Homo sapiens: one gene and its partners. The protein of the gene in region 2 binds, or shares a complex with, the protein of the main gene of each other region. Each region holds a gene or a part of one and is shown on either strand. Other genes may lie near its edges.

The links. The genes of interacting proteins can lie anywhere in the genome.
Region 1: SMARCA2 (region 2) and SMARCE1 share a complex: the UniProt entries of both Homo sapiens proteins name them as parts of the BAF complex.
Region 3: SMARCA2 (region 2) and DPF1 share a complex: the UniProt entries of both Homo sapiens proteins name them as parts of the neuron-specific chromatin remodeling complex.

What each region holds. Positions count from the first base shown.
Region 1 is NC_000017.11:40,630,819-40,637,839, forward strand, and holds part of SMARCE1 (SWI/SNF-related matrix-associated actin-dependent regulator of chromatin subfamily E member 1), read right to left. Parts: intron 6,755-7,021; coding exon 6,674-6,754; intron 5,709-6,673; coding exon 5,577-5,708; intron 5,285-5,576; coding exon 5,113-5,284; intron 1,550-5,112; coding exon 1,377-1,549; intron 876-1,376; coding exon 774-875; intron 107-773; coding exon 1-106. UniProt on the Homo sapiens protein: Involved in transcriptional activation and repression of select genes by chromatin remodeling (alteration of DNA-nucleosome topology).
Region 2 is NC_000009.12:2,053,335-2,060,355, forward strand, and holds part of SMARCA2 (SWI/SNF-related matrix-associated actin-dependent regulator of chromatin subfamily A member 2), read left to right. Parts: intron 1-1,262; coding exon 1,263-1,389; intron 1,390-3,337; coding exon 3,338-3,511; intron 3,512-4,956; coding exon 4,957-5,130; intron 5,131-7,021. UniProt on the Homo sapiens protein: ATPase involved in transcriptional activation and repression of select genes by chromatin remodeling (alteration of DNA-nucleosome topology).
Region 3 is NC_000019.10:38,221,223-38,229,006, forward strand, and holds the start of DPF1 (zinc finger protein neuro-d4), read right to left. Parts: upstream 3,001-7,784; 5' UTR 2,921-3,000; coding exon 2,892-2,920; intron 2,684-2,891; exon of another isoform or gene 2,534-2,683; intron 1,487-2,533; coding exon 1,326-1,486; intron 1,243-1,325; coding exon 1,135-1,242; intron 1-1,134. UniProt on the Homo sapiens protein: May have an important role in developing neurons by participating in regulation of cell survival, possibly as a neurospecific transcription factor. Belongs to the neuron-specific chromatin remodeling complex (nBAF complex).

The DNA.
Region 1 (7,021 bases), on a different chromosome or scaffold from region 2:
CGGCCTCCTTCTCCCTTTCCTCCTGCCTTTTGCGGGCCTGTTCCTCTGCCTGTGCAATCTCAGCTGCAATTTTCTCCATATCCACTTCTACTTTCAGACCGCACAACTAATCAGAAAAAAACAGAACTCCGTAATGTTTTTTCCTTATAATTTTTGAGCCAGATATATTCTTTCAAAAGTTGGTTTTCTTGCCTATAAACTATATATATATATCTATACACCTGTATGTGTGTGTGTGTGTGCCAAAAAAATGTGGTTCTAGGTCTTCTCTGAAACTCTTGGGTCTACAAGAAAAAACAGCAGCTCTAGCAGTTGTATAATATAGGATATTCCAGAGCAGCTGGTGAGGCAAAATAGTGAAAGTTCTGGGGTATACATAAGGCTTCCGTTTTACATTTTGGGCTACCAACTAGATTTCCTTGTCTGAATGCAAAGTGCAAATTATAAATTACATTTAATGACGACATTTGATGAATAAATCACAATAAAATGAAAGTAATTAATGACTGTATGGGAGTTTAACATATCAGAGGGCTCTAGCATTTACAGGCCTAGAAGATATGTGTATACTCTATGATATTTCAAATTTATTGCAATTTTGCCAGAGAATGGGAACAATCTTATAAAAAAAGGATCCTACAGGTTTATAATAAAGTTAGCCCTGTTTCAAAGTGAACAACATTCAATAAAAACACTATTTTGGAAAAAAGAATGAGGAAAAATAAAGTAACAGGTATAGTGATAAAAGTATAGTTAACATATTAAACAGATACCCTTTTAAGTTCATTGTTAAATGAATCTGTGCTTTCCAGGAATTTCCTCTTCTTCTCCTGGTGTCGTTCCTCTATTTGAAGAAGTTCAGCTTCTAGTTTTCGCTGCAAGACAGGATCAGGCTTCATAATTGTGTCTCATTTTTTAATGGTCCATACTTTCAAACAGTGTACCAAATAATGTTTTGAACTTTAGATCATTTATCACATGAGTCTAGCTAAGATTTAAAAAATACAAAATGCAGCACAAAGAAATGATTATGATCAATAGGTAAATGTTAAAGAATACTGTTTCAGGCCTGAGCAATTCCTTGGGAAAAAATATTTAGCATAGCAGTAAAGATTGATAGGATGCCTCAAAATTCTTAAGTTCACACGTATTTCTTAACGAATATACTTTCCATTACAAGGTTCTATATTATAGTTTTTAATGACAAACTTATTAAACATCTGGGAAAGGTCCACTTCCTTAAACCTCTTCTCCAAATCAGGAACAGGTTAGATTGACATATTTAACAGGTAGATTTAGGCATGGTGTAGGAATCATATCACCTGGGATTTGTGGTATAGGCACATCTTATTGAAATGAATGTTTTATGACTTTACCTGATGAACCATTAAGGACTGGACCTGCCGTTTGAGGACCTGCATTCTAGCTGTTGTGACAACTGACCGAACGTCTGGCACCACACTCTCACTAAGAATTTCACTGATGAGGCGGTGGTTTCTCTGGAAACGGGCGGTGGCTGTATGCTTCATTGAAAAGCCATCATCATAATCTGGAGTGAACAAATTGTTCTGGAAATCAGGTCACCAGTAACCATAAAAAGGAGTGTAACAATGTTAACACTTAATTACCAACGAACTATGGCCCTCACTGGCCTAACAAGTGGACCTGCCCAGCGTCATGGGAGCACTGGGGCAGTTACTTGATAAAAACCATACAGAGGACGTAATGTGTTCATTGGCCAAGGTAGTAATTTATCTCACAGTCTTTAAGTGATAATGTTGTGTCTGAGAAGGATTTGGCTAAAACATAAACGAGATACAACATGTCTCTTCTGGCTTCGGAATCAATGTGAAGGCTGTATGTGATGGCAGTAATTGAAATTCTGCCCAATGTTTCACTCTCTTGGTAGTAACTTAAGGCATTTAACAACTAATGAACAACATATGAACTGGGCAGTGACTTTGTCACTTGTAGCACTTTAAAAATGAATGAAAATGCCCATTTGTAAAATTATGACAGCAGAGAATACATCACCTCTAACAATATTCAGTTTCCCAGGCCCTCAAGTAATTTTATAGAAGAAAAATAAATGTCTGATTCCAAATTTAATTTTTGTCAGTTTACACTTAGCCAGCTGTTGTCAGTGTGTAATGGTATGACCCAAGTTCATACAGTATGGGTCTGGTTTATATGCTTCTGTTTCGTTTTGAGACAGAATCTCCCTCTTGTTACCCAGGCTGGAGTACAGTGGCCCAGTCTCAGCTCACTGCAACCTCCACCTGCCAGGTTCAAGTGATTCTTGTGCCTCGGCCTCCCAAGTAGCAGGAATTACAGGCGCATGACACCACGCCCGGCCAATTTTTGTATTTTTAGTAGAGATGGGATTTCACCATGTTGGCTAGGGTGGTCTTGAACTCCTGACCCCATGTGATCTGCCCATCCTGGCCTCCCAAAGCGCTGGGATTACAGGTGTGAGCCACTGCACACACACTACAGGCTTATTTTTAATAGCTATCTAGTGTTTCCTTAATCTCAGTCTTTGCTCTATCACCTTCATAGTTTTTCATATATCTACTAACAGCCTGTACTATCGTTTACTTAATATTTTTCTTTAAACTAACTCACTTAAAAAAAAAAAGAGCTTTCTCTTTAGTAATACATATTAAAACAAACGCTCCTCTCTGAACCACTTAATCACCTCAGTGACCCACCAGACAGGGAGGAACCACACTTAAGAAAACCTTGTTACAGGGGAAACCCTGTTACAGAGGCCTATGTTGCGCTGCTATGTCAGTTTAGCACCTCCCTTATTGTCTGGCACTTAAGTAGTTCCTAAAATTCTCATTATTATAAATACTACAGCTAAAAACTGTTGTTTTTGTAAAAAGTTAAAAAAATTACTTTTGTTTCCTTTTGAGTAATTTCTTTAGGAAATAAACTTCTGAAATTAAAACTACTGGGTAAGATACAGTTTTTTTAAAACTCTGTAACCTTTCTACTTTTTAAGAGTTTTTCACCTTTAGGGTTATATATGGTACATCTGTGCTACATCTGTCTAAGTTATCTGTTTTTGTTGTTAGCTTTTGTTTTCTTCTTTCATTTATATGGCCCCAGTGTTGACCACAGATGGGGACATAAGGTCTAAGCAATTTGGGCTTGTTCTTCTTTGCATGTTAGTCGTCTGCTTCCTTTTTTGGGGGAATGGCTTCTCTGGTTATGATCTAATTGAACAGCTATTTATCCTATGATGAAGAGGCTCTCACTGAATAAAAGCCTTCATTGTCTTGTGTGGATAATTGCACATGCCCTCTTTTTTTTTTCTTTTTTTTGAGACTGGTTATTGCCCTGTCATCCAGGATGGAGGACAGTGGCATGATCATAGCTCACTGCAGCCTTGAACTCCTGGGCTCAACTGATCCTCCTACCTCAGCCTCAGCTGGAGTAGCTGGGACTACAGGCACAAGCCGCCATGCCCAGCTAATTTTTAAGTATCCTGTAGAGATAAGGTCTTGCTGTGTTGCCCAGGCTGGTCTCAAACTCTTGGCCACAAACGATCCTCCTGCTTCAGTTTCCCAAAGTATTGGGATTACAGGCGTGAGCCATGGCGCCTGGCAATGTCTATCTTTTGATAGTCCTCTGTTAAAGAAGTCAGTAGCTGTTGTACTTCATGCAGATGCCACCTTTCTGTTATGTACATTTGACATACATTTCCACCTCCCAAGTATTCCTCTTTCTAATCATTTTCGTACTGGTATGCTAAAGACATTCTCATATTGGCATCTTAATTGCTACCTGAATTTACTAGCAACTTTAAGACCCAATCTGAAAGTTAAAAACATCATAGGCCCAAGTTTCAGACTGTTTCTGAGTGAATCTCTTTAGTCCTTCTCAGTGTTCATGGTGTTAATGAAAGCTTTAGTTATTTTCTACTTACGTTGCTAGCCTTTGTTTCCTCTTGTACTGACCTCCATCCTCCCAATATCTGTAGACTGGATTGTCTTCTGATTTTTAGTTCTGTATGTTTCTCTTGCATTAATCACCCCATTTGAGTAATTAAAGTGTGAGGATGCTAGTGTGTCTTTAGCACTGCTGATTCTGCTTAACATTCAATACTGTTTCTATTCCATATTCTATTCTCTATAGTATTACATTCCACTGTCTGTATTTATGAGAACATTTGACAATATTCCAGTACATTATTTTTAAAAATGACTTCTGTTTTTCCCCACTTTTATCAACTTATTCTTGTCTTCAGGTACTATTATTGCTTCCTCCCTCATTGATATTGTCTTTAAAGTTCTTATAGCCTTCCTCTTTGTTACTGCTACTTTAAGATGGGATCTTAAATCATTTTCCTGATGTTCTTGTCGCTTGCAGCTAAAGCTTCTAACCTTTTGCACATCATAGCAGTATACAGAGAAACTATTAATGTTTATACAGCACACTAGATATGTGGTTGAGTGTGTTCACACTGCAGGTGGCTATCTCTGGGTCTCCTCGCAGCTTCAGACCCTGCCTGGCTGCACAAGACCAGAACAATCAGAACACCTGCTAACTACTCATACAGAATGGCAATTAGGAAGCTCTGCCATTCGTGTGCATGTATACAATTTGTATGGGTATACCCTCATGTACACCCATACAAATAGTAGCATGAGCTATATTTATACATTCTTATTGGATTTCTGAATTAAATGGAAAGGAAACTTCATGTTTCCACATACTCATTAGCTTCTCCCTTAAGAGCCTTTAATTCAGCGAATTTAGTGAACCAATAAGAAAACAAGATATAATTAGAATGCATTTAGCTTTTTAAAAGCAGATGAGGCAAAATCCTGATTGTGATTTAAAAACCTTTCGTGCATTTTGAGTACAAAGATTTTGATAAACAATCAATAATTTTTGCTATTTTCTGCACTGAAAAGGATATTTCTTTTTCTTGTGGGAAATTCACATACAAATCTTACTCAATATAACCAAAATACTAAGACGATACTTAAATTATACTTTCTTTTCCATTTAGGATAAGAAATAAAAACTTATACTTAAGAGATTTCTCATATCTTAACTCACAGAGAAAGCATAAACAAAACCCCACTTTTTTTCTTTTACCATCTGGATCTTCAGCAGGCTGAATGCTCATGTACGGTTCTCCTTTCTCCATGCGAGATTGTCTCTGTCGACTTTCTTCCTCTAAAGCAGCTTCTGCACGACTTTTTGCATTTATGTAAGCAAGGTACGCGGGGGAATTATGATAGGCCTTCATAGATTCATTGTACTCTATCTGAAATTCAAATGTTTTTTGGTTTTATAATTAACATTTTGCAGGTTATAATGCAGACCTATGTTATCTCACTTGAATATCAAAAGATATGATGTAAACAGGGTGTTGGGATAATTATCTCCTTTTTACAGGCAAGAAATCTGAGGCCTTGAGAAACTGACTTGACTCAGGTAGACAGAGCCTCAGTACTGCATCAGTGTTCTGACCAAATCTTATGTTACTTTTATAAATAGTAAGCCAATGTTTTATGTACTTTACACATTATCTATCCCACTGTGAGCCCCTACCCTACCTTTTCTGCTTCGTATTCGTTTAAATATTCTTGTTTTTCTTCATCAGTGAGATCTCGCCACATGCCACCAATAATCTTGCCAATCTCCCACAACTTTAGGTCAGGGTTGGAAGCCTTTACTTGGTCCCAGACCTTAAAAAGAAAACAGATGAAATGTTAATACTGATGTCTAAACGTATAGACCTTTAAAAATAGTTTTTAATGTGGAAACTTTTCAACATACAAAGCAGAGAAAACAGTATCAAATTTCTAGGTACTCATCAGCCTACTTCAAAAATTATCAAGAACTGGCCAATCTCAAGTTATCTTTGCCCTACTGGATTACTTTAAGATAGATCTCAGACATCACGTCACTCACTTATAAATACTTCAATTTGATAAGCAAGAATATCTCCAATCACTACAGACACTTAGGATGAGTTACTTCAATAACATAGTCTACGTCTCTAAAAGTTCATGTGAATTTAGAAGAAAAGTGCTTAATTTGCATAACACGGTACATCATATTATCAAATACAAATATAATAGTCAAGATCAAAAGGTTTAACATTTCTAGATAGTGGTTATAATGCTCTGCCTTTTAATAAAGATATTGGCTACTTTTTTTATTTTAAGAGTAATGTAGGCTCATCACCAAAAAAAAAAAAAAAAAAAGGAAAACTTGAGGAAAAGAAAATAAAAACTACCATAAGCTTACTGCTTAGAGATAATTATTGTCTTCTGTGTTTTCCCCCTTCAAACTAACATGTGGTTGCTATTATTTTTATAAAAATGAGATATTAATTCATGTAGTCTTGCAGTCCTCCTTCACTTAACATTTTCCTCACGTCATTAAATATTCTCCAAAAGAAATGACTTTAATGGCTATAGAACATTCTATCTTAAGGATTTTAACAGTTTATTTAATCACGCTCCTCTTGTTGGATTTTAGTTCTGGAATTTTGAAATCAGAACTAATTGCTTTAAAAACCGTATTTTTTTGGACCTTTCCTCTGAATATGCACAGAAAAGCTGGCTAAGCCGATCTAAAGTTGGATGTTAAGCAAAGAAGCAGCAAAGACAGTGTCCTCACTCCTTACCAGGTCCTAAGCACCTACCTTTCTGCTGTACCTCATGTAGGGCATCAGCGGCTTATCTGGTGGCTTTGGGGGTTTTGGAATCGTGATACCAGAGGATGCCTACGAAAGAGTTAAATACATTCATTATTCAACTGTAAGGAGTTCACTGGCAAACTGAAAAGAGAGTCCCTTAAAAAATTCTAATGCGCCTTTCTTCTATTCGTCCAAATATTTTCTTCACTGAAAATAGCTATCACTGCAAATTCAGAAATGTTCAAAAGAAAATGACTTTAAGCACATAATTTTTAAATGTTTTACTTAGCAGTTTATTGCCAATGCTTTGACAACCTGGCTGCAAGAACAAATAAAATATTACACAGTAACCCA
Region 2 (7,021 bases):
TAACAGAATTCTTAATTTTCAGCTTTTATAGTTGAGGTCCAGGAAGGTTCTCGGAAAGTGTATCTTAATTATCTATCATTTTATTGCAGTGGTTTTGGTATCAGGCAAATTGAGGTTCCAATCTTGGCCCCCTTCTTTACTAGCTCTGTGGTATCTCCAGGTGTCTTCAGTTTTCCTCATCAGCAAAATGGGACCATTATAACTTTTACCTTACAGAGGCGTGTCTGTGTGTGTAAGAGAGAGACAATTAAATAACATTGTACATTAAAGGCACTTAGTGCTGTTAATATTAGCCTACTTTAACTTATTACTTATTATTATTCTTTCTTTGTTGAAATCTAGTTCAGTACAGTTTGCCTCAGATTTAGGGGATGTAGTTCTAAAAATAGTCTTAAATGGCATATAATTATTTTGTCAGAATAGGATTCAGGTGAACTCTAAAACCAGCAGTTTATATATCTAACAGTAATAGTATCCCAAGTGAATGGCTAAAGTCAGAGGTCTTTTATTTTCTACTCTGCCTTTATTATGAAGAAGTACATGCAGTTATATTTTTGATGGTGTGTAAAACGAGAATCCTCAACATCCTTTTCTAGAAACTCTTGGTTTTTGAGTACTATTTACTGCTGGCCCTGATTTTTTTAAAACAGCCTCATTTGTATTTTCTTTTCTCAAGCAAGCTCTGCTCACAGAGGAAGTGGTTGTGGCTGGCAGAGCGCTTTCTGAATGTTTAGGGTTGGCTGATTTCTGTGGCATCAGCACCTAAAACTGTTCTTGCTCACTGCGCTTTAATGGCTGTCGTCATCAGCATCTTGGCAAAGAAGACAAATGGTCTGGTTGCCTTAGGACAGAACTAGAAGTTCGGAAGAAAAAAGTCTGTGCTCTCAGCTCTGCATTCTGTCTGGCTGGGAGTTAGAAAGCTTGTCAATTGGTTCTGTCTCTTATATTCTCTCTCTGCTAAGAGTGAGCAAGGACATTTGACTTCCCCACTAGATGCAGGGTGAACCTTCTTTCCCTAGTGTTAGATAGAGGTTATGGAGGAAGCCACATTGTTAAGTAACATATACCTGTCTGCATTAATGCAAAGGTAGCTTTTCTCTGCTTAACATCAAAAATTCTAGTTGGGTGTTAGAGATCAACTATCAGTATCTGGAATATGTTTTGCCCCGGACTTAAACCTAATGTCATTGTTTATCATTTAAGATTAAATTGTAATGTGTTTTTCCCCTGCCCCCTTTTCCCCATTTTATTGTTTCCTTTAGACTTCAGGCCCGCATAGCTCATAGGATACAAGAACTGGAAAATCTGCCTGGCTCTTTGCCACCAGATTTAAGAACCAAAGCAACCGTGGAACTAAAAGCACTTCGGTTACTCAATTTCCAGCGTCAGGTAATACATTTTCCCCAGTGAATCTGAGATGTAGGAAATAAATGTAATTGTTCCTAAAGTGTTATCTGTGTTGCCTTTAGTCTATTCAATATTGTTACAAAGATATAAAGATATAAATATAGTAAAATAGTGAATCTTTTAGACCAACAGCTTACAACTAAAAATGATGAAGATGAACTGCTTATTATTCTGGTTTTCTCTTCTGTATATGGGAAAGAGTTTTTCCTCCTGTACTATGGGTTACAAAGTCAGAGTTATGGCGTTTTGTTACCATGGATGAAAAACCTTGGGAACAAGTGGGGTAGCTCATGTTTGCTTTTATGACTCCAAGGAAAAACCAGAAGGTAGTGGATTGGAGCTTCTTTGTAAGCACAGATGTAAAGTGCTTGCCACGACTGTGAAAATAATTTTAACAAATATGGTAGCCACGCTACTGAATTAGTGGTTCATCATTTATAGAAATACATAAAGCAATGTCTTATAGCTTATTTATTCACCGATGTCTAAGTTTGGAGTGTTTGATCACATCAGGCTCATGTATTGACTAATCAGTAAATTATCTGCTCTTGTAGTTTACAGCAGTTATTAAAAGCCAGTATAATGACCTATTTTCTGATTTCTAAATTAGTAAGAGACAAGTGGAATGAGTTAGAGCTAATTTTCACTTTGGCGAGTTTTGCCTTGTGGACTGAAAAGGTTCAAGTTTGCTAGTCCGCAGATTGCCTCACTAACCCAAAGGGGATAAGGAACGTTTCATTGTTAGTCAGATGGGTTTGTTTTGTTAAAGTCTGGAACATGCGAAATGAATAATTAATGAGTCAAAGTAGTTTGGAAGTATTGACTTGGTTTGTTGGAGGATGTGACTAAAATCACAGGCCACTCCAGTTGCTATTGTGGTAGGAATTTGGGTGTATATTTGCCTTACCGGCTATAATCTCACAGATGGACATTAGTGGTGGGTAGGTGCTACTTGGCTCTTGGTTTGTGAGAGTAGATTTCAGCTTAAATTTTAAAAAGAAAAGGGAAAATTCTCTGAGTTCTGTTTACTTCTTTCTTATTGGTGACCTCATAAGATGAATTAATAAAGTGCTGGATAAAATCTTACTAAATGAATATTAACCAAGTATATTTTCCGGAATATGTTTATGTTCAAATTAGCGTTGCCATGACGGACTCTTATTGATTTCTGATTTTTGTTTGATATTATTTTAAAAATCTGTTATTTATGAAGCTTCCTAATTAAATTAACTGTAACTAATGATATTTCAGATGCAGTGGAATGATTATTTAATGTGTATTCTCCAGTCCCTACCCCCTACCACCACATAACATGCAATACAGATAAAAGTATTACATTTGTGATCTGAAATAAGTTCATGATATAATATAAAATGTAGATCTCTTGGAAAGAAGATCATTATTGGAGTGGGAAGAAGCCAAAACTCATATTTCCCATCCTTTGTATGAGACTATGAATTAACGTTGTTTGAGTACCTGCTGCTACCACACGTGAAAGTAATTCTTTTATTCTTTTTTTGGAGCATCATTAAAATTAATCTTTAAACACAAAGAGAATGTTAACATGACACTTAAAACAAAGCGGAAAATTTAAAAAGCTTATTTAGCTAATTGGTATCATTAGAATAATTAGAGAAAATGAAGTTATTTAAAAGGCAAGACAACATCTTTTCTTTCTTTTACTGTTACAGTACTATAATTGCTTTTGATTTGAATTATTTGGGGAGAAAAATCTTGTACCGTTCTTGAAAATATTGCATACATTTGGCATGATTTTAGTTCCTTCATTTAATACAAACCAAAGGTGATTGAGAAGCTTGTGGAGATTCCCCGCCCCACTCTATTCCATTAAATGCAACCGCGAGAAGGCCAGAGTTCAGGAACCTAGCTTCTGTTAGGGAAGGCTGTCTAACTGCTCTCTTCTTGACAGCTGAGACAGGAGGTGGTGGCCTGCATGCGCAGGGACACGACCCTGGAGACGGCTCTCAACTCCAAAGCATACAAACGGAGCAAGCGCCAGACTCTGAGAGAAGCTCGCATGACCGAGAAGCTGGAGAAGCAGCAGAAGATTGAGCAGGAGAGGAAACGCCGTCAGAAACACCAGGTTCTTAGACCCTGGGCTTTGCTCACCCTCACTTTGGCAGAGCTGTCCAATGAATTCATCAAATGGGGTCAGAATGACTGAAAAATGGACCCTTGTGGGTGGTGGGGACATCACAGAACAGAACGGTTCCTTGACATGTACATAATCCAACCACATCATTTTATAGACAAAGACGCTTAAGCCAGGACGTATAAATGACTGCCCAAGGTCATACAATTGCTTAGCAGCACAATGAGGTTTAGTATTGTCTTAGTTTGTCTGGGCTGCTATAAAAAAATAGCACAAACTGGGTGGTTGATGAGCAACAGAAGTTTATTTTTCACCGTTCTGGAGGCTGGAAGCCTGAGATCAGGGTACTAGCATGGCTGGGCTCTGGTGAGGGTCTTCTTCTGGGTTGCAAACTGTTAACTTCTCCTTGTTTTCTTACGTGGTGGAAGCAGGCCAAGAAAGCTCTCCGGGCTTCCTTTATAAGGGCACTAATCCCATTCGTAAGGGCTCTACCCTCATGACCTTATCACCTCCCGAAGACCCCACCTCCTAATACCATTACATTGGGAGTTAGCATTTCAATATATAAATTTTGGGAGGACACAAACATTCAGTCCATAACAGGTGTCATGTTCATAATCCCATGGGAAGTTTTTGAATGGGTGGGCATAGGTGGATTTCCTAGAGCAAAATTCTGGGAGCAGGAACTTGGAAAAGGAAAGTAGAAAGCAAAAAGTTATTTTCATAACAAATATAATAGTGTCCTGGCTTCTCTGAAGGGCCTAGTTGAATGTTTCACAGAGGCAAATATTAAAAACATTCCTTTCTGGGGGTTTGGAAATATTTTGATGTAGGATTTGATTTCCTGTCATAGTCCTGTAAATTGTATTTGTTTTCCTGTGCTTAATTTAGTGCTTAGCTTAGTTTCCTTTTGAAAAAATGTTGGATTTTAGTGTAAATAGAGTATATATTTAAAAAGTGGATACAAATTCTGCATGGCAATTTTAACTTTGTATAAACTTATTTTGTGTCATACTCTAGGGTAGTTAGAGCAGAAAAACATTACTTTTGTGACATACTTTTTGCTGGAAATACTCATGTTCCTCAGGTTTATTTTGGAGTGAATGAGTGGTTTGCTTTACATTTTATCATTGCCATTTTGTAGGTCTCTTTCAGTCTTCGATCTTTCCATTCTCATGTGGCCACACCCTCAAGGCTAAGGAGGCTTCTCTTGCTAAAGCTTACAACAAAAGGAACCCGAAGAGGCTATCTTTCCCACCAGCCCCATGGCCCACACCTTAACTGCAGAGACACCAGGGCACCTATCCCCAAACAGATTCTAGTCTTCCTATGCTGTTAAACACACACTGAGAGTTTTCTTGGACAACACTGATAGCTCAGAGGACACTGGTCATTGGATTTTAAGTATCCTTTTCTTCCCTTTTTGGATCTTCTAGGAATACCTGAACAGTATTTTGCAACATGCAAAAGATTTTAAGGAATATCATCGGTCTGTGGCCGGAAAGATCCAGAAGCTCTCCAAAGCAGTGGCAACTTGGCATGCCAACACTGAAAGAGAGCAGAAGAAGGAGACAGAGCGGATTGAAAAGGAGAGAATGCGGCGACTGATGGTAAGGAACTCCCTGCAGGAGCCCAGGAAACTACTCAACCCACGTCCGTCTGCAATGAGACCATTAAATATGGTGGTAGTAGAAGGAAAAAATGAAAACTGCTTATCAAAAATTTTAGTAAATTTCTTTGAACCTTAGGGAGATGAAGTAAAAACTTTTTCTCTTTCCTGGAGAATGCATGCCAAAAATCTAGGGGGATGACTGATGCGTATAGTATTTCTGTGTCCTGGGGTGGCATTGCGCGGTACACATTACAGCTTCTCTCATAAAAGCAGGTACTGTATTTTGCATGAGTTTGATAACCAGATCTGGAAGGATGGCAAATGCAGTTCTTTTAAAAATATGGCCTCTTTGAGATGAATGACCACGTTTTTTGGAATGAATAACACATTAAGTCGTGTCTTCAAATCTAAGAAGGTCTGTGTTTTGAAGCCTCTGGTGCTTATCTTTCTTTTTTAATGGCAGAAATTATTCTCTAACAGTGTAATAAGTGATTTTTAAGTTGATTTTGAAATGTTGCCTTTTTTGTGATAGCCTTGTTATGGTCAAAGGCTATTCATGGATTATTACATTTGCACTGTTATTTTTTAATGGGCATATAAGCACAGAAGAGATAGGTTTATATCATTGGCCTGAGTATTTGTTTTTATTGACCATTTATTTTTGGAATTGGACCTCAGAGCACACTGTGGATTTTAGAAAAGCGTGTGTGTGTGTGATGTTATAATTATAGGAGACCTGCAGATTCTATCTAGGACGTAATGCCTGCATAGATGAAGATAAGGTCATTAGTCTCAGACCATAATTATGTTCCTGGAAAATTCTAAGTGACACTGTCTTCCTGGCTGGTATTACAGTTTGCATTTTTTTCATTTTTTGGATTCCAGAGAGTAAACACCATGTTTTAAAAGCCTCTGTGTGCAGGTACTACTACATCTTACTACCCTATCCTGCCTCCCTCTCCATACCAGGGAGAGAGGACTGTCCGAGAGGTTTCTGACTAGACCGTTTTTGTAGTAATTTGATCACTAAGCAGTCAAATTTGTCTGACTCAACTGAAGTGAAACTATATTAGAACTTCAGTAACAGATTGGTTTGACACTAATGATTAGGCATTTGCAAATCATTAATTTTTGCAATTAAGTGATGGAATATACAGATAATAGAGAAACTGAAGTTTTTTATCACTCTTTCTTCAAGTGAGTTCAACCATAACCGAAAGCAATTAGAGTTATAATAGCATTTGAGGCTCTTGCTCATCCACAGGGCAGACGGCAGCTAGACTGAGTGATGAAGCTGCTGTCACTCAGGCAGATGCTAGAGTGACACCCCTGGACAAAAGATCCCAAGTTTTTGTTTTTGTTTTTGCAATGGAGTTGCCTCTTAAAGATTTTGCAGCTTGCTCCTTTTATCGTGGCATTACATGATAAAAATAATTTGGAGTGTCCTTTTATTGGGATACACAAAGAGATTTCTCTCAAAATGGCTTAGAGTACATCAGAGTTTTATTCTGTTTAACCTCATCATGTTGCTTAATGGGAGGTGGAGGTGGGAATTACTGTATCTATTTTATTGCTCAGCAGTACCAGACTTCAGGTGCTAAGTGACTTGTCTCCAGTCACCTGGGCCCATTACTCAGTGCAGATCTGTGGCCAAAAAAAAAAAAAAAAAAAAAAAAAAAAAAAATCCCCCAAATTTGATCTTTCCTGTTAACCACAAAGTTTGTAATGCCAAAAAGAAAGACTTTTTAAAATATAAGACATTATTTGTTAAAAGCCCATTTGATTCCTTGCCTTTAGTAGTACTTTTTGAAATATTTATGAATGAAAGGATATTATGTCTGGAATTTGCTTCAAGACAATTCAGTTTGGGTTTAGAAGAAGAGTAGCAA
Region 3 (7,784 bases), on a different chromosome or scaffold from region 2:
CTCAGGCACCCACAGAAAAAAATACAGGCAGATGGCCGGGCATGGTGACTCAAGCCTGTAATCCCAGCACTCTGGGAGGCCAAGGCAGGTGGATCACCTGAGGTCAGGAGTTCGAGACCAGCCTGGCCAACATGGTGAAACCCTGTCTCTACTAAAAATACAAAAAAATTAGCCGGGCATGTCAGTGTGCATCTGTAATCCCAGCTACTCAGGAGGCTGAGACAGGAGAATCGCTTGAACCCACTAGGCGGAGGTTGCAGTGAGCTGAGATTGCGCCACTGTACTCCAGCCTGGGTGACAGAGCCAGACTCCATCTCAAAAAAAAAAAAAATACAGGCAGACTGATCCATCCCAGTTCCCAGGGGAAGGGACACAGTCAGCAACTCCATACACCCACACACACCTAACAGATATCACTATGCCCTCCAATACCACTGGGACCCTTGGTGGGGCATGGTGGTTCACGCCTATAATCCCTGCACTTTGGAGGGCTGAGACAGGAGGATCCCTTGAGCTCAGGAGTTCAAGACCAGACTGGGCAACATAGTAACACCCTGCCTCTATTTAAAAAACAACAGGCCAGGCGCGGTGGCTCACACCTGTAATCCCAGCACTTTGGGAGGCCGAGGTGGCCAGATCACCTGAGGTCAGGAGTTCCAGACCAGCCTGACCAACATGGTGAAACCCCGTTTCTACTAAAAATACAAAATCAGCCGGGCATGGTGGCGCATGCCTGTAATCCCAGCTACTCGGAAGGCTGAGGCAGAATCGCTTGAACCTGCTAGGCGGAAGTTGCGGGTTCAAGGTTCAACTCCCCGCTAGGTGGAGGTTGGGGGATCACGCCATTGCACGCCAGCCTGGGTGAAACTCTGTCTCAAAAATAAATAAATAAATAAATAAATAAATAAATAACAACAACTGGGCACCTGGGCCCATGTAGGAGGAGATGCAGTCGCCACTCAGTGACTCAGAGAAACTGTGGAATCTCTGGGAAACACCCGGGACGCACATGGGCAGACAGACACACAGCCAGCCAGGCAGACACTTGCTAGAAGGCGATAAAGGTGATGGACGAGTGCTAGGACACACAGCAGGCGCTGGGACACCGATGGGGGCCCCAGCGGCTGCACCCACCGATCTTGTACTCGCAGGGCCTGAGTCTGGGGTCCTCCAGGATGTTGAGTCTCCGTTTCTTCCTCCAACAGCGGGCGGGGTACGTGTAAATCTGTCCCGGGGCCAAACCTGGAGAGAGAGGGGGGTGAGAGGGCGGCGGCGGTGGGGCGGCCTGGCCCCGCCCCGCCCTGCGCCAGCCCTCCCGGCGGTACCCGGCCCGCGGTGGGTCTTCTCCATCCAGATGTAGCAGTTGTTCTGGGCCACGCCGGTCTGCGAGTCGAGGAAGGGCAGTCGCAGGCTGCGCTCGGCGCACAGGCGCGCGTTGTAACTGCGGCAGTGCTCGATGGCCTCGCGGTAGAAGTCCTCGCCTAGGCTAGAGGGGCGGCGAACGGGCGGGCGGCTGTCAGCAAGGGCAGGCGCACAGGGTCGCCCAGCACCCCTTCCCCGGCTGCCGGGCCGCCCAGGCTCGGGAGGGGTGGGCCGACCCCTCCAGCCTCACCTCTCCCCTCCTCCCACTCCGGGACCCAGGCTGGGGGAAGGGGACAGGGCCCAGGGGCCCCCAAACTGGGACTCAAACAGGCCCCCAGCTCATGAGTAGAAACACGATACAGAAACAAACAAAAACACACCGGGACGTATCCCTACCTGAACACATGCAGACACACAACACAAATCACACACAGTCACACGGGATTCACACACAAAGAGAGACAAATCCCAATACTCACAAAGGAGAAACAGACAAACCTCACACACGTGCACACATAAATATCTACTGAAAAAGACAAATATCCCAAGTTCCATAGTGTGGAGACAAATCACACAAATAACCATGCACAAAGACACATCACATATCCACAGACACACACCAGAAACACATCACCCACACAAAGACACACAACATGGAAACATCACACCACACACACATACACCCCCTCATGCATCCAAAGACACAAGCATGTCAAAAGACAGGAACTACAGAAACCACTTGCGCCCCTAGGCACTTACCCATGTATCCAAAGACACAACACAAACCACACACACAATATCCAGACACACAACACAAAGAAATCACACAGATTCACACAGGTACACACACACATTTACAAAGATGCACGATGCGCAACCAGTATCTAAAATATCACACATCCACACAGACACACACACATATAAAACACAGAAACAGCCAAATCCACCCATAGTCACACAAAAATTTACACACAAATACACGCAGCCCTACATACCCAAAAACACAGAACACAAGACAAATGACATATAGTTCCAAAGGACACGGACACACACTGGGAGACCCAAATATCCAAAGATATCTAGTGCAGAATAAAAGGAAACAGACACATGTCCACACACCTATCCCCCAAAAATTCTTAAAAAAACCAGAACACAAATAAGTGATACACACACACACTCCACATCCCAAGACAAAGGTAGTGTGGACTTCACTCCAGTTGCCAAGGCCCCCGCACCCCCGGGTCATTTCAGTCTCTCCCAGACCCGAGGGTTGCAGGGAAGGGATGATGTCTCCCTTCCCCAAAAAGAATCTGGAGGCCCCCCACGCCCTCCACCCCGCCAGGGAGCGGTGCATCCGACACCATTCTTGTCAGAGACCCACAGTCACACACTCTCGCACCCCCGCGCAGCCCCGCACTCGGTGACAGCCCCCCAGACACCCCTTCGGCCCCACCCCCGGTCGCCACACACACACAGGCCCGCGTAGACCCGCCCGCGCTTCCTCTCCGCCTCCCGCCGGCCCGCACCACCTCAGGGGGCCAGGGATGACAGTGGCCATCTTGCTCCCCGGGTCCTGCCCCCAGCAGGTCCCCGCCGGGTCGGTCCTCCCAGCGGTCGGGCGGGCGCTGAGGCCGCCCATCCATTCATTCCCGGGGGGCGGGAGCACGAGGGCCACGGCCAATCGCGGCGACGGGGCGGGCCCGCCCGGGCCATGCTGGGAGTGGTAGTCCCAGGCCAGGGGGCCCCCGGGACCCCGCGGGGACGGGACGGCGCGGAGGAGGGGCCCGGGGCACGCACCGTCACTCACCCGCCCTCACTCGTCCACATATCCTGCTCTCGCGTGCACACAACCACATGCACACCTGGACTCGCACACGCCCACGCATGGCAGTTTACACACACATTCACGCGGATACTCACAGCCTCCCACACACTCCTACTCACACACCTTCGCACGGACTCACACAGCCACACGCACACACACTGCAATACTAAGAGACGCAGAGACACCTCCCAGGTGCCCACACAGACTTCTCACCAACATGCTTCCAGCAGACACCCCCTCACCGCCCCCCACCCAAGTCCCTCCTGGCTCCAGAGACCCCACCCGGGGCTGTCTCTCCCAGCAGCCACGCTCACGGTCACCCCGCCCTGCTCAACGCCTTCTGCAGGCCTGACAGCAGCAGTGCAGGTTAGAAACAGTAGTCACACCTCCAGGGTTCAAATCCTAGCTCTGCCACTTGGTGGCCATGTGACCTTGGCAAATGACTTAACCTTTCTGGGCCTCAGTTTCCTCATCTGTAAAAAGAGGATGATGCCTCACTGGAGTGTTGTGAGGATTAAATGAGTAAATATAGGTAAAGCATTTTAAGAGGTGACTGGCAGGCCAGGCGCAGTGGCTCACACCTGTAATCCCGGCACTTTGGGAGGCCCAGGCAGGTGGATCACCTGAGGATGGGAGTTCGAGACCAGCCTGGCCAACATGGTAGTAGTCTCTACTAAAAATACAAAATTAGCCGGGCATGGTGGCGCATGCTTATACTCCCCCACTCAGGAGGCTGAGGCAGGAGAATCACTTGAACTCAGGAGGTGGAGGTTGCAGTGAGCTGAGATCGTGCCATTGCACTCCAGCCTGGGCAACAAGAGTGAGACTCCCTCTCAAAAATAAATAAATAAATAATAAGAAAGAAAGAATAATGCGGCCAGGTGCGATGGCTCCAGTCTGCAATCCCAGTACTTCGGGAGGCCTAGATGAGAGCACTGCTTGAGCCCAGGAGTTTGAGACCAACCTGGGCAACATATCCAGACCCCTGTGTCTACAAAAAAAAATTAAAATTAGCTGGGCATGATGGCGCAGCAGTGTAGTCCCAGCTACTTGCAAGGCTAAAGTGGGAGGATAGCTTGAACCTGGGAGGCTGAGGCTGCAGTGAGCTGTGGTCTCACCACTGCACTCCAGCCTGGGTGGCAGAGCGAGACTCTGTCTCTAAAAGCAAACAAACAAACAAACAAACAAACAAAAAACTAAGTAAGCAGGGCGCCGTGACTCATGCCTGTAATCCCAGCAATCTGGGAGGCTGAGATGAGAGGACCGCTTGAGCTCAGGAGAACAGCCTGGGCAACATAGCGAGACCTGGTCTCTACTAAAAAAAAAATAAATAGCTGGGCATGGTGGCACATGCCTATGGTCCCAGCTACTCAGGAGGCTGAGTCAGGAGGATTGGTTGAACCCAGGAGATCGAAGCTGCAGTGAGCTATGATCACACCACTACACTCCAGCCTGGACAACTGAGCAAGACCCTGTCTCCAAAAAAAAAAAAAAAAATAGATGCTCAGTAGATATTTGTTGAATGAGTAAATGCACCCATCATGTGCTGGGCACAGTTCACCCCGGGATGCTTTTATTATCTGCATTTTCCAGGTGAGGAATCTGAGGCACAGGAAGGTAACCTCACATGCCCGCATGCCCTGGCGGCTCTTTGAAGGTAAGACTGAAGGAAGGAGGCAGGCACCCCTGACGGCCCTCCCCAAGTAGTCCTGACCTCCTTCTCTCTCCCACTGTCACCCACACTGACTCCACCCGAAGAGATCCCCAGGGAGTGAGCAGACCCACTGAGTCACAAACTGACCCAGTCTCTCTGCAACACCACCACCCCGTCCCCCCTCCCGTCTCACCCCTCCTCCCCCTTTCCCCTTCCCACCCCTTCTCCCCCTTTCCCCTTCCCCTCTTCCACCCGGACCCCTGTAGAGCCAGCATTCAAATTTGGGCGGCTGCTGTAATTAACACGCCCACAAACGCCCTCATCCACCAGGGGGCGCCCCAGCCGACAGAAGTGGCCCGCTAGCCTTCACCATTTTTGTCACTTGAAATCCCCCCAAGAGAGAGATCCAGTCAAGGCCTCCTACACTCACGGTCACTTCTACACACACACACACACACACACACACACACACACACTCCTCTAGTCTTAGACCCTTTCCACAAACTCGCCCATCTAAGCCAGGTAAGGTCTTGGCCGGCCCCTCTCCTGGAACAGGAGGTAGGTCTCTGATTCACATATGGCCTGGAGTGGTGACAAGGGGATTAAGTGAGGGGCACTGACACCCCTACGATCACTCTGGCCTCCAGGGCCCTATAGTGGCCACCTCACACCTTACCCACGGTGAGCTGTGACCCCACCTTCCTCTCTCACCTCCCATTAGCTCACAGGTCCCGTAACACACCCTCTTACACTTGATTCCCACACCGCTAGCCTCAGACACGCAGACTCACTCCTGCCCCACCCCAAACTCTCATGTCGATTTGATTAAGAGAAGCCCGAGTGTAGACACTGAGTGCAGACCTTCCTAACAGTCCTCCTCTACCAGCAGAATTTCTATTTTTCTTTCTTTTCTTTTCTTCTTTTATTTCTCTTCCTTCCTTCCTTCCTTCCTTCCTTCCTTCCTTCCTTCCTTTCTTTCTTTCTTTCTTTTCTTCTCTTTCTTTCCTCTTTCTCTTTTTCTCTTTTTTTTTTTTGGACAGCGTCTCACTCGATGGCCCAGGCTGGAGTGCCATGGCATGAACACAGCTCGCTGCAGCCTCCACCTCCCAGGCTCAAGCGATCCTCCCACCTCAAACCCCCAAGTAGCTGGGACTACAGGCCTGTGCCACCGCACCCGGCTAATTTTTGTATTTTTGTAAAAACAGGGTGTCCCTGTGTTGGCCAGGCTAGTCTCAAACTCCTAAGCTCAAGTGATCTGCCCACCCTGCCCTCCCAAAGTGCTGAGATTACAGGCATAAGCCACCATGCCCGGCCCACCAGCAGGATATCTACCCACAGACGCAGGCTGACACTTGCAGCGGGCTCTCCTTTCTTTCCTTCTGCCCTAACCACCTGCACACACCACTCCCACATACTCTCCTACACACTTGAACTCCCAGTCCTCTCCCTGGCCCAAACAATCCTCCTGCCCCATCCCCCAATGCCCTGTGTGGGAGCTGGCCCACAGTAGAAATCAATTTCATAAATCAATATTGATACTACTAATAATAATCACTACATTTGGTCAGTGTCAGTCTCTGTGCTAACTGCTTTACAAAGATGGCCTTAGCCCCACGACAGTCCCATCGGGTGGTAAGGGCTGTTAGAAGCCCCCATACACAGATGGCAAAACTGAGGCTCACGGCAGGGAACATTCGTGGCTCAAGCTGGTTTTGGAACTCAGGCAGTCGGAACTTCCGAGGGCGGCACCCTGCAGCTCCTTCTCCCCAGGGGATTTGACTCACATTCTTTCAGGAGCCAGGGAGTCCCCACCTTCACCCCCACAGAGACCTTTTGGAAGGGAAGGGCACAGAGGGGTAGGGCCCTCCCAGTCCAGGCTTACTGTAGCTGGGCCCCTGCTCACGGCTGTAGCACACCTCCTCCCAGGGGTCTGGGCCAGGGTCAGGGTGAGGGGCCCCATCGCCTGTAGATCCACCAACCTGCACAAGAGCCCCGTTCCCAGCCATTTTGCGGATGTCCCCTCACAGGAGAGACAGCTGTCTGTGTGTGCCACTTAGGGTGAGAGGGCAGCAGAGGGGTGTCACCATCATACACCACCTCACACGGACCCGAGCCCCACACACCCGCTCCCGGCACCCTGCTCACGGCGAAGCCACACGTGTAGGCGCTTGCCTCTAAGTCCCTGCCCCCCTTCCTCTCCCAACTCCCACCCTCCACCTCCCACCCCCATTCCCGCCAGAAACCAGAAGCAACTGGCGGCCTCTGGTCCAGCCAGCAGGCGCATCCCTTCTCGTGGGTGGGGTAGGGGGGCGCTCCCTCTCTCCCTCTCTCCCCCCACCCCCCACCCCCGCCCCCAGCCCTCGATGTTCAAGGTCAAGGCAGCCAGCGCACGGGGTTGGGGGAAGGGTGGGGGAGGTCGCCCCGGCCCCTTTGTGCGACGCCGCGGGCGCTCGCCCTCCGCCTCCTCCACCAGGCCCGGGAGGAGGGGGAGGGGAGCGCCTCGCTCGCCTGCGGGGAGGGAGGGCGGGAGCGGCCGAGTGCCTGTCACTTGGAGCCCGCTGTCACCGCCTGGGAACGGGGGGTGGGGAGCGCTGGGACGTGGAGTCCGGGATCCCGAAGAGGAAGCAAGAGCGAGATGGAGAGGGGGAAGGGGAGGTGTGGAGAGCGCGAGGGATGGCAAGGAGAGGAGAGGGTCAGGAGGGGCCAGGCTCGGACCCAGGCTTCCGGATTCCCAGCCACCGGGCCCGGGAAGAGGCGAACGCTCGGAGGACCGCGGCCAGGGAGAAAGGGAGGGAATCCCCGGAGACCGAGGGCGCTCCCGGCACCCCCTCCTGGGCAGCCGGTCCCCAAAGGGATCAGAGATGCTCCCGTTTGATGTGTATGCGCGGGGAGAGGGAGGGATGCCGCGGTCCAGACTGACGGCGGGTTCGGGGCTTCCAGTTC